Linked DNA regions of Homo sapiens: all the other regions are linked to region 2. The links come from fine-mapping of genetic effects on gene expression. A gene starts in region 2. Each other region holds a variant in brackets. All regions are shown on one strand. Distances are between the middles of the regions. Region 1 has its middle 56 kb from the start of PARP1. Region 2 holds the start of PARP1 (poly(ADP-ribose) polymerase 1). Region 3 overlaps PARP1 (poly(ADP-ribose) polymerase 1).

The links.
Region 1: its variant is fine-mapped to the expression of PARP1 in whole blood (INTERVAL, PIP above 0.99).
Region 3: its variant is fine-mapped to the expression of PARP1 in whole blood (TOPMed, PIP 0.99).

The regions. Positions count from the first base shown.
Region 1 is chr1:226,462,597-226,465,357 of GRCh38, reverse strand. No RefSeq gene overlaps it. Among named protein-coding and RNA genes, the nearest start is that of PARP1, 56 kb to the right of the region's middle. The variant G/TG (reference allele first, on the strand shown) is at 1,630.
Region 2 is chr1:226,406,802-226,409,562 of GRCh38, reverse strand. PARP1 (poly(ADP-ribose) polymerase 1) reads left to right here and starts at 1,470. Exons shown (of 23, transcript NM_001618.4): 1 at 1,470-1,753. The coding sequence starts at 1,634. RefSeq lists a cis regulatory region at 875, enhancers at 803-947, 1,126-1,255 and silencers at 1,286-1,545, 1,796-1,895.
Region 3 is chr1:226,378,624-226,381,384 of GRCh38, reverse strand. PARP1 (poly(ADP-ribose) polymerase 1) reads left to right here. Exons shown (of 23, transcript NM_001618.4): 9 at 177-317; 10 at 1,221-1,463; 11 at 1,744-1,812; 12 at 2,111-2,243. Among named protein-coding and RNA genes, the nearest start is that of PARP1, 28 kb to the left of the region's middle. RefSeq lists an enhancer at 1,077-2,276. The variant G/C (reference allele first, on the strand shown) is at 1,523.

The DNA of each region.
Region 1 (2,761 bases), 56 kb before region 2:
CTATTCAGGAGGCTGAGACAGAAGCATCACCTGAACCCAGGAGGTGGAAGTTGTGGTGAGCTGAGATCACACCATTGCACTCCAGCCTTGGCAACAGGAGCAAAACTCCCGTCAAAAAAAAAAAAAAAGAAGAAGAGTTTAGGGTTGGTATGAGATTGCGGTAGGGTTAGTGTTAAGGAAGGGATGCTTGGATAGGGTATTAATTTGATATTGGTCTGAGGTTATGTATCCGAAATTGGTGGGTTCTTGGTCTCACTGACTTCAAGAATGAAGCCGCAGACTCTTGCAGTGAGTGTTACAGTTTTTAAAGATGGTGTCTCCGGAGTTTCTTCCTTCTGATGTTCGGACATGTTCGGAATTTCTTCCTTCTGGTGGGTTCATGGTCTCGCTGGCCTCAGGAGTGAAGCTGCAGACCTTCATATGAGTGTTACAGCTCATAGAGACAGTGAGAACCCAAAGAGTGAGCAGCAGCAAGATTCAGTACAAACAGCAAAAAAACAAAGCTTCTACAGTGCCCAAATAGATCCTGGCAAGTTGCCACTGCTGGCTCAGGCAGCCTGAGTTTATTGTCTTATCTGACCCCACCCACATCCTGCTGATTGGTCCATTTTACAGAGAGCTGATTGGCCCATTTTACAGAGGGCTGATTGGTCCATTTTGACAGGGTGCTGATTGGTGCGTTTACAAACCTTGAGCTAGACACAGAGTGCTGATTGGTGCATTTACAATCCTTTAGCTAGACACAAAAGTTCTCCAAATACCCACTAGATTAGCTAGACACAGAGCACTGATTGGTGCATTTACAAACCTTGAGCTAGGCACAGAGTGCTGATTGGTGCATTTACAATCCTTTACCTAGACAGCGGGGCTGGAGCATGGCCGGGGCATGGCCACGGACTGCAGGTCCCGAGCCCTGCCCCACAGGGATGCGGCTGAGGCCCAGTGAGAATTCCAGCGAGGCGCTGGGGGAGCCAGGGCAGTGCTGGGGGACCCGGGGCACCATCCACAGCTGCTGTCCCAGGTGATAAGCCTCTCACTGCCCAAGGCCGGTGGTGCCAGCCGGCTGCTCAGAGTGCAGGGCCCACCAAGCCCACGCCCACCTGGAACTCGCACTGGTCCACGAGGGCCGCACGCAGCCCTGGTTCCCATCCGCGCCTCTCCCTCCACACCTCCCCGCAAGCAGAGGGAGCCGGTTCCGGCCTCGGCCAGCCCAGAGAGGGGCTCCCACAATGCAGCTGCGGGCTGGAAGGGCTCCTCAAGCATGGCCATAGTGGACGCCAAGGCCCAGGAGGTGCCAAGAGCAAACGAGGGCTGCTAGCCATTGTCACCTCTCAGTTAGACAGGGGAAATGTCGATTTCTAATGGCTAGCTGGAGAGTATATGGACAGCTTGATAGCCTCACTTACTCTCCTTCTACCATCTGCTCCCCAGTTATCTCCTAGATGTACCTCCTCTGGTTTACAACTTTGGACTTCAAAATTCTTCTGTAAAATCACAATATTTAGCAGTAGAAACTGCCCCTCTCTTGGAAAACTTACTCAACCCTCTATGACAAGATCTGCTGATTGCCTTTCCCAGCACCCATGCTCCCCTTCTTCTCAGTAACATAATCCAGATTTTTTTTTTTTT[G/TG]AGACTGAGTCTCACTCTGTCGCCCAGGCTGGAGTGCAGTGGCATGATCTAGGCTCACTGCAACCTCCGCCTCCCAGGTTCTAGTGATTCTTGTGCCTCAGCCTCCTGGATAGCTGGGATTACAAGCATGCACCACCACACCCAGCTAATTTTTGTATTTTTAGTAGAGAGGGGGTTTTACCATGTTGGCCAGGCTGGTTTTCAACTCCTGACCTCAAATGATCCACCCGCCTCAGCCTCCCAAAGCTTTGGGATTACAGGTGTGAGCCACTGCACCCAGCCAATATGGCAGATTCTATCATAAATGCTTTATCTGAATCATCTCATCTAATCCTTACAATAACCCTATGAAGTACCTCTTATTATATTTCCTTTTTGCAGACCAGTAATTGAGGCACAGAGATGTTAAATAACACAACTGAGGTCACAGGGTTGGTAAGCGGTAGAGATTGGATTAGAATCCAGGGAGTCGGAGGCCCAAGCACAAGTTCCTAAGCACCATACTCTACTGCCTCCCATTCATTCAGTAAAGAATAATTGTTACTATCTGCTGAGCACTTTCTAAGAGCCAAACTCTGTACCAGTCCTTCTCAATCAGAGTGATGTTGCCCCCAGGGAACAGGTGGCAATGTCTGAAGACATTTTCCTACCATCAGCACTATAGTGAGGAACCCTACTGGCATTGAGTATGTAAAGGCTAAGGAGACTATTAAGCAGCCTACGATGCCCAGCACAGCCCCCTACAATAAAGAATCATCCAGCCCAAAATGTCAATAGTGCCAAGGTTGGCAAATCCTGCTCTATCCTAGGCACTTTACATTTTCTCATTTAACCCTCACAACAATCCTATGAAACAGTTGCTGTTACTCTTTTACAGTGAAAAACCTAATGCTTAGACTGAGATTAAGTAATTTACCCAAAGCACAGAGCAATAGATGAAGTGGTAATTCAAACCAAGATCGGTCAGATTCCTAAAAACTTTTTGGGTCCAGGCACTGTGTCCGTTAATTTGCATATCATATAGAGTTCCCTATGGCTGCTGCAACAAATTAACCCAAACTTGATGGTTTAAAACAACAGAAATGTAGGCCGGGCACAGTGGCTCACACCTGTAATCCCAGCACTTTGGGAG
Region 2 (2,761 bases):
TGTTGTCCAGGCTGGTCTTGAACTCCTGGGCTCAAGGGATCCGGCCACCTCAGCCTCCCAAAGTGCTAGGATTATAGGCATGAGCCACTGTGCCCAGCCTACCTTCAACGTATCTAACTGGTTACTAACTTTTAGGATTCGGCCTATGTCTCACAACCTTCTTGCTTACTCAACATCCTTGTCTCTTAAGCCACTAGCTTCTTCTCTATGGTTAACACTTTTTATGAGTTTTATTCATCTGCTTATTTTTCTTATCCTCTATACCAGAATTGAATATTTTCAAATAAAGCACACTCATGTTACAATCTTTGAAATGAAAAAAAAAAATGCATAGGATTAGAAAAGAAACCAATTTTAATAAACTATATTTTGAAGTATAGTTCTATATTAAACAACAAGATCTAGGCCAGGTGCAGTGGCTCATGCCTGTAATCCCAGCAATTTGGGAAGTCGAGGTGGGAGGATTGCTTGAGGCCAGGGGTTCAAGACCAGCCTGGGCAACATGGAGAGATTCCCCATCTCTTTCTTTACACACACACACACACACACACACAAAATATCTGATAGCAACAGGTGCAGTCATTACCACAATTTCGAGTAGTGATGAGCTTAATAATATTTCGAGTTATCACCAACAACTGTAAAGTAACATGAAAACGTCTGTGATGACTATTGCCCACAAAGTCACAGGTACTGCTAATACTCCTGGTATTTGTAGTCAAATTCATAATAAAGGAAATGCTAGGTTTCAGTTGGTATTTTGTCCCGACGGTCTGTGGACGGCAGGTTAGAACGCCCGTCCAAGCCAGGAGGGTGGACCTAGCACTGCAGGGTCCACCTCGGGCCAATCAACTATATTCCCGAGGCGGGGGCCTGCGCTTCCCGGACCCAGCTGCCCTCAGGGGAGAGAGGACACACTTAAGAGTTTGGGGCCGGCGTGGTAGCTCATGCCCCTGATCCCAGCACTTCGGGAGGCTGAGGCGTGAAGATCACTTGTAGCAGGAGTTTGAGACCAGTCTAGCCAACTTGGCGAGACCCTGTCCCTAAAAAAAATTTTTTTTTAATTAGCCAGTTGTGGTGAGCGCCTGTAGTCCCAGCTACTCGGGAGGCTGAGGTGGGAGGATCGCTGGGCTCAGGAGTTCCAGACTGCAGTGAGCCATGATGGCGGCACTGCACTCCAGCGCGGTGAGACTCAGTCTCAAAAATAAAAGGGGGAGGGGTTGGGGGTAAAATTAGTTGTGAAATCAAGTAAGACTTCCTGGGACAGAACAATCAAAGGGGTGGCGCCGGGTCCTCCAAAGAGCTACTAGCTCAGCCCAAGCCCCGCCTCGGCCCCCAGGGCAGCGGCCCGCAGAGCTCCACCCGGCAGGCGCCCGGGAAACTCCGCCCCCCGGCCGGCAGGGGGCGCGCGCGCCGCCGGCCCCGCCCCGTGGACGCGGGTTCCGTGGGCGTTCCCGCGGCCAGGCATCAGCAATCTATCAGGGAACGGCGGTGGCCGGTGCGGCGTGTTCGGTGGCGGCTCTGGCCGCTCAGGCGCCTGCGGCTGGGTGAGCGCACGCGAGGCGGCGAGGCGGCAGCGTGTTTCTAGGTCGTGGCGTCGGGCTTCCGGAGCTTTGGCGGCAGCTAGGGGAGGATGGCGGAGTCTTCGGATAAGCTCTATCGAGTCGAGTACGCCAAGAGCGGGCGCGCCTCTTGCAAGAAATGCAGCGAGAGCATCCCCAAGGACTCGCTCCGGATGGCCATCATGGTGCAGGTGCGGGCCGCTGTGCGGGCGGCGGGGCGGGGACGCGGCGCCCCGGGTTAACTGTGTCCGGGAAGGCTGGGGGAGGGCGGGCCCAGGGAGCGAGCGGGCCCGGGCCCTCGGAGCGGCACTTGGGGCCTATGGGGCCGCGGCCGCCCCTCCTCCCGAGCGGCCCGGCCGACCCTTCCGGAAGGTTTTGCTGATGTTGCAGGAAAAGCCCGGGAAATAAAGTCTGCAGCTGGTGTTGCCTTTCGCTTTGTGAAAACGAGGAGCCTCTTCTCTTCTCCTTTCTGGGTGGCGGTGTTTTATTACTGCCGTTCGCCTCAGGGGTTGGGGGGGAATTGTACATGGTCTCTTTAAGCTAATCTGATTTTGACCTATCTTGTTCTGGAGGGTTTTTGTTCTACATGGATGGTGGCGACTGACATGTGGGTTTTTTTTTTTTTTGTTAAACCTATTTTTGGCAGTCATTTCAACACGTCATTTAAACGCTCACTCTCATTTTTTATTTTAATTAGGCAGAACTATGCAGAAAGGTGTCATTTCTGTACAGTACATTCACTTTGAGCCTAATTTGTGCTTTAAAGTAACATTTTCCCCAAATTTTCCAGATTCACAGACGCGTTCTCTTGGTGCATTTGCAGCTGTCTGGTTTGAGTAAGAGTGGCTCCAGGGGGGTTTCTCATGTGGGCTTTTTGATAGATTGAATCCCCTTCTGAGGTTTCCTGAGCCTTCTGTGAGGTGGTGGGCTTGAAGGCCCCTGTCATTTCCCAGGGGCTCCTGCCTCCAGCTTCCAGTTTGCCGATGTCTACCTTTGTATTAATAATTCTGGTTCTCATCTGCCCTGTTCCTCCTCGCTTCCAACATATTACCCAAGCTTAGTGCTCATGGTCAAGGTAGCTTGATTTTCCTCCCTTCCATGAGCTGTAATGTGTTTTAGGAATGACCAGATATCCCTCAGTGGATTTTCAGTACTTAGTACAAGGGAGGGCGACATTTACCGAGTGGATACCCAAGTGC
Region 3 (2,761 bases), 28 kb after region 2:
GGACATCTGTAGGTACTCAGGTGGCAGCTTGCTGTCCCGTCCTGTTTTCTCGCGAGTGTATTTTCATAGGCTTTTCCCAGGAGCTCGCTGCTTGGCTCACCTGCTCCTCCACCTCCCCTTACTGGGGAGCAGCACCAGAGCTGGCCTTGCTGAATGATTCTCTCCTTTCATCCCAGATAAGCCATTATCCAACATGAAGATCCTGACTCTCGGGAAGCTGTCCCGGAACAAGGATGAAGTGAAGGCCATGATTGAGAAACTCGGGGGGAAGTTGACGGGGACGGCCAACAAGGCTTCCCTGTGCATCAGCACCAAAAGTGAGTTGAATCTGAATTTGTGCAACAGGGACAATGCTTCTGTATCTTATGATTGTGATGACGAGTAAGTGAGGAAGAGTCGAACACAGCGCTGAAAAACTGGATCTTAACATCATCATCGCTGTGGTTCTTTATGAAGGGAAACCAGTATTTGCTCTCAGTGTTGCTGCTTTGTACTGTAGATTCACATGCATTGCGTGTTCTCAACTAAAGACGGTAAGCTACTATAGGTTGAGTCTCCCTAGTCCCGAAGCCCAAACAAATTGCCTCAAAATTCAACACTTTTTGAGTGACAACATGATGCTCAAAGGAAATGTTCATTGGAGCATTTCAGATTTCAGAGTTTTGGATTAGATGCTCAGTCAGTAAATATGAAGCAAGTATTTTAAGGTCTGAAAGGTTTCTGGTCTCAAGCATCTCGGATAAGGGAAGCTGCTCAACCTGTATTCTCATCACTTCGCACTGCTCTGTAAGATGTGCATAGATATCTGCCAAAACAGAAGTTCAAGGTTCAAGTATGTTTGGAAAAGGTAGGGTAAAACAAAGCTAAACAGGTTTCTGTGTGGGTTTATTATGCTGATTACCACTGTAGGTCTTCAGGAACCAGAGAAATAGAATACAGGATTTCCCATACATATTTGACATCAGGGTGTTTTTTCTTTGGAGTGTTTGTTAACATCGTGCTGTAGAATGGTTTGGAGAAGGCTGCCCTGGCTCATCATACCTTAGAAAAGGGGGAATGTTGCTGATAAAAACACTCTTGGGAGCATTAGACTTGGAAGCAAAGGAGAGCTGTGAATGCTGAGGGTTTGGAAGTACACACTAAATATAACTGTAGTAATTTGAAGTTTCAGTTTTGTTTTAAACTTGTATTTTGGTTTTTTTTCCTTTCAATTTGAACAGAGGAGGTGGAAAAGATGAATAAGAAGATGGAGGAAGTAAAGGAAGCCAACATCCGAGTTGTGTCTGAGGACTTCCTCCAGGACGTCTCCGCCTCCACCAAGAGCCTTCAGGAGTTGTTCTTAGCGCACATCTTGTCCCCTTGGGGGGCAGAGGTGAAGGCAGAGCCTGTTGAAGTTGTGGCCCCAAGAGGGAAGTCAGGGGCTGCGCTCTCCAAAAAAAGCAAGGGCCAGGTCAAGGAGGAAGGTGAGGGCCCCAAGCTGCCCCCTCCAGGGCCAAAAGCCAGGGACATTGGTGGCCAGGTT[G/C]TTGTCCACGGAACCTCTCCCTTTGTGTCCCTGACATGGCCTGTTGAGTGCTGCAGAGCAGGACACAGAATGGCAGGCGCTTTGGGGTGGCGGGAGTAGTGTGTATATAGATGCCGAGTTGACAGATGATGGGAATGAGAACAACTCATTTGCCTTCTACCTTCCCCTTACTTTTTAGTTACATTTAACTTCATGTTTACATTTTTCTGTTCTCCTCCAAGGTATCAACAAATCTGAAAAGAGAATGAAATTAACTCTTAAAGGAGGAGCAGCTGTGGATCCTGATTCTGGTAAGCAAACAGGACTGCCAGCAAAGTGGGCTGTGCCGCCCCCCAACCCCCAGCTGACTAGGAGCACACATCCAAATGCCCGCAGCATACCTGGGGCAGTGTGGTCGTGCCTTTGTCCTCACTCAGGCCTCCTTCACCAGCTCCCCCAGTCCTGAGAACACACATTTGTGGGGAGCCTCCCGAGGGTGGTGGTAGTGTATCCAAGAGGCGTGAACCTCAGGCCTGCAGATCCCTTCTCCGTGAGAGTGCTAGCACCTCAAGGGGAGAGAAAACTGTAGGTGCTTTTCCTCTGGGACAGGACTGGAACACTCTGCGCATGTCCTGGAGAAAGGTGGGAAGGTCTTCAGTGCCACCCTTGGCCTGGTGGACATCGTTAAAGGAACCAACTCCTACTACAAGCTGCAGCTTCTGGAGGACGACAAGGAAAACAGGTGAGTTCTGCAGGTGTAGCCTGGTTGTGCAGAGACATGGGCCCGTCCTGCATTGGTTAGTGCTGTGCCATCAGCCTTGTGAAACCCGTTAGGCCCAGTGCCTGGGGAATGAAATCTAATCACAGAGATCAAAAACAAATTATAAGGCCTTTGCTTAAAGGGGAGAAAGAAGCCACTTACTAACCAGTAGCGTTGCTGTCCTTGTACAGTTGTCCCAAGGTATGGTTTCACATATTCTTCTGCTGGCTTTTCTTTTTGTTTGGTGTTTTGTTTTTTGTTGTTGTTTTGCAACTATTTGTTTTGTTTTTTGAAATAGTCTCGCTCTGTTACCCAGGCTGGAGTGCAGTGGCGTAATCACAGCTCAGCGGAGCCTTGACCTCCCAGGCTCAAGCAATCCTCCCACCTCAGCCTCCTGAGTAACTGGGACTATAGGTGCGCACCACCATGCCTTATTTTTTATGGAGACGGGCCTCGCTGTGTTGCCCAGACTGGTCTCAAACTCCTGGACTCAAGTGATC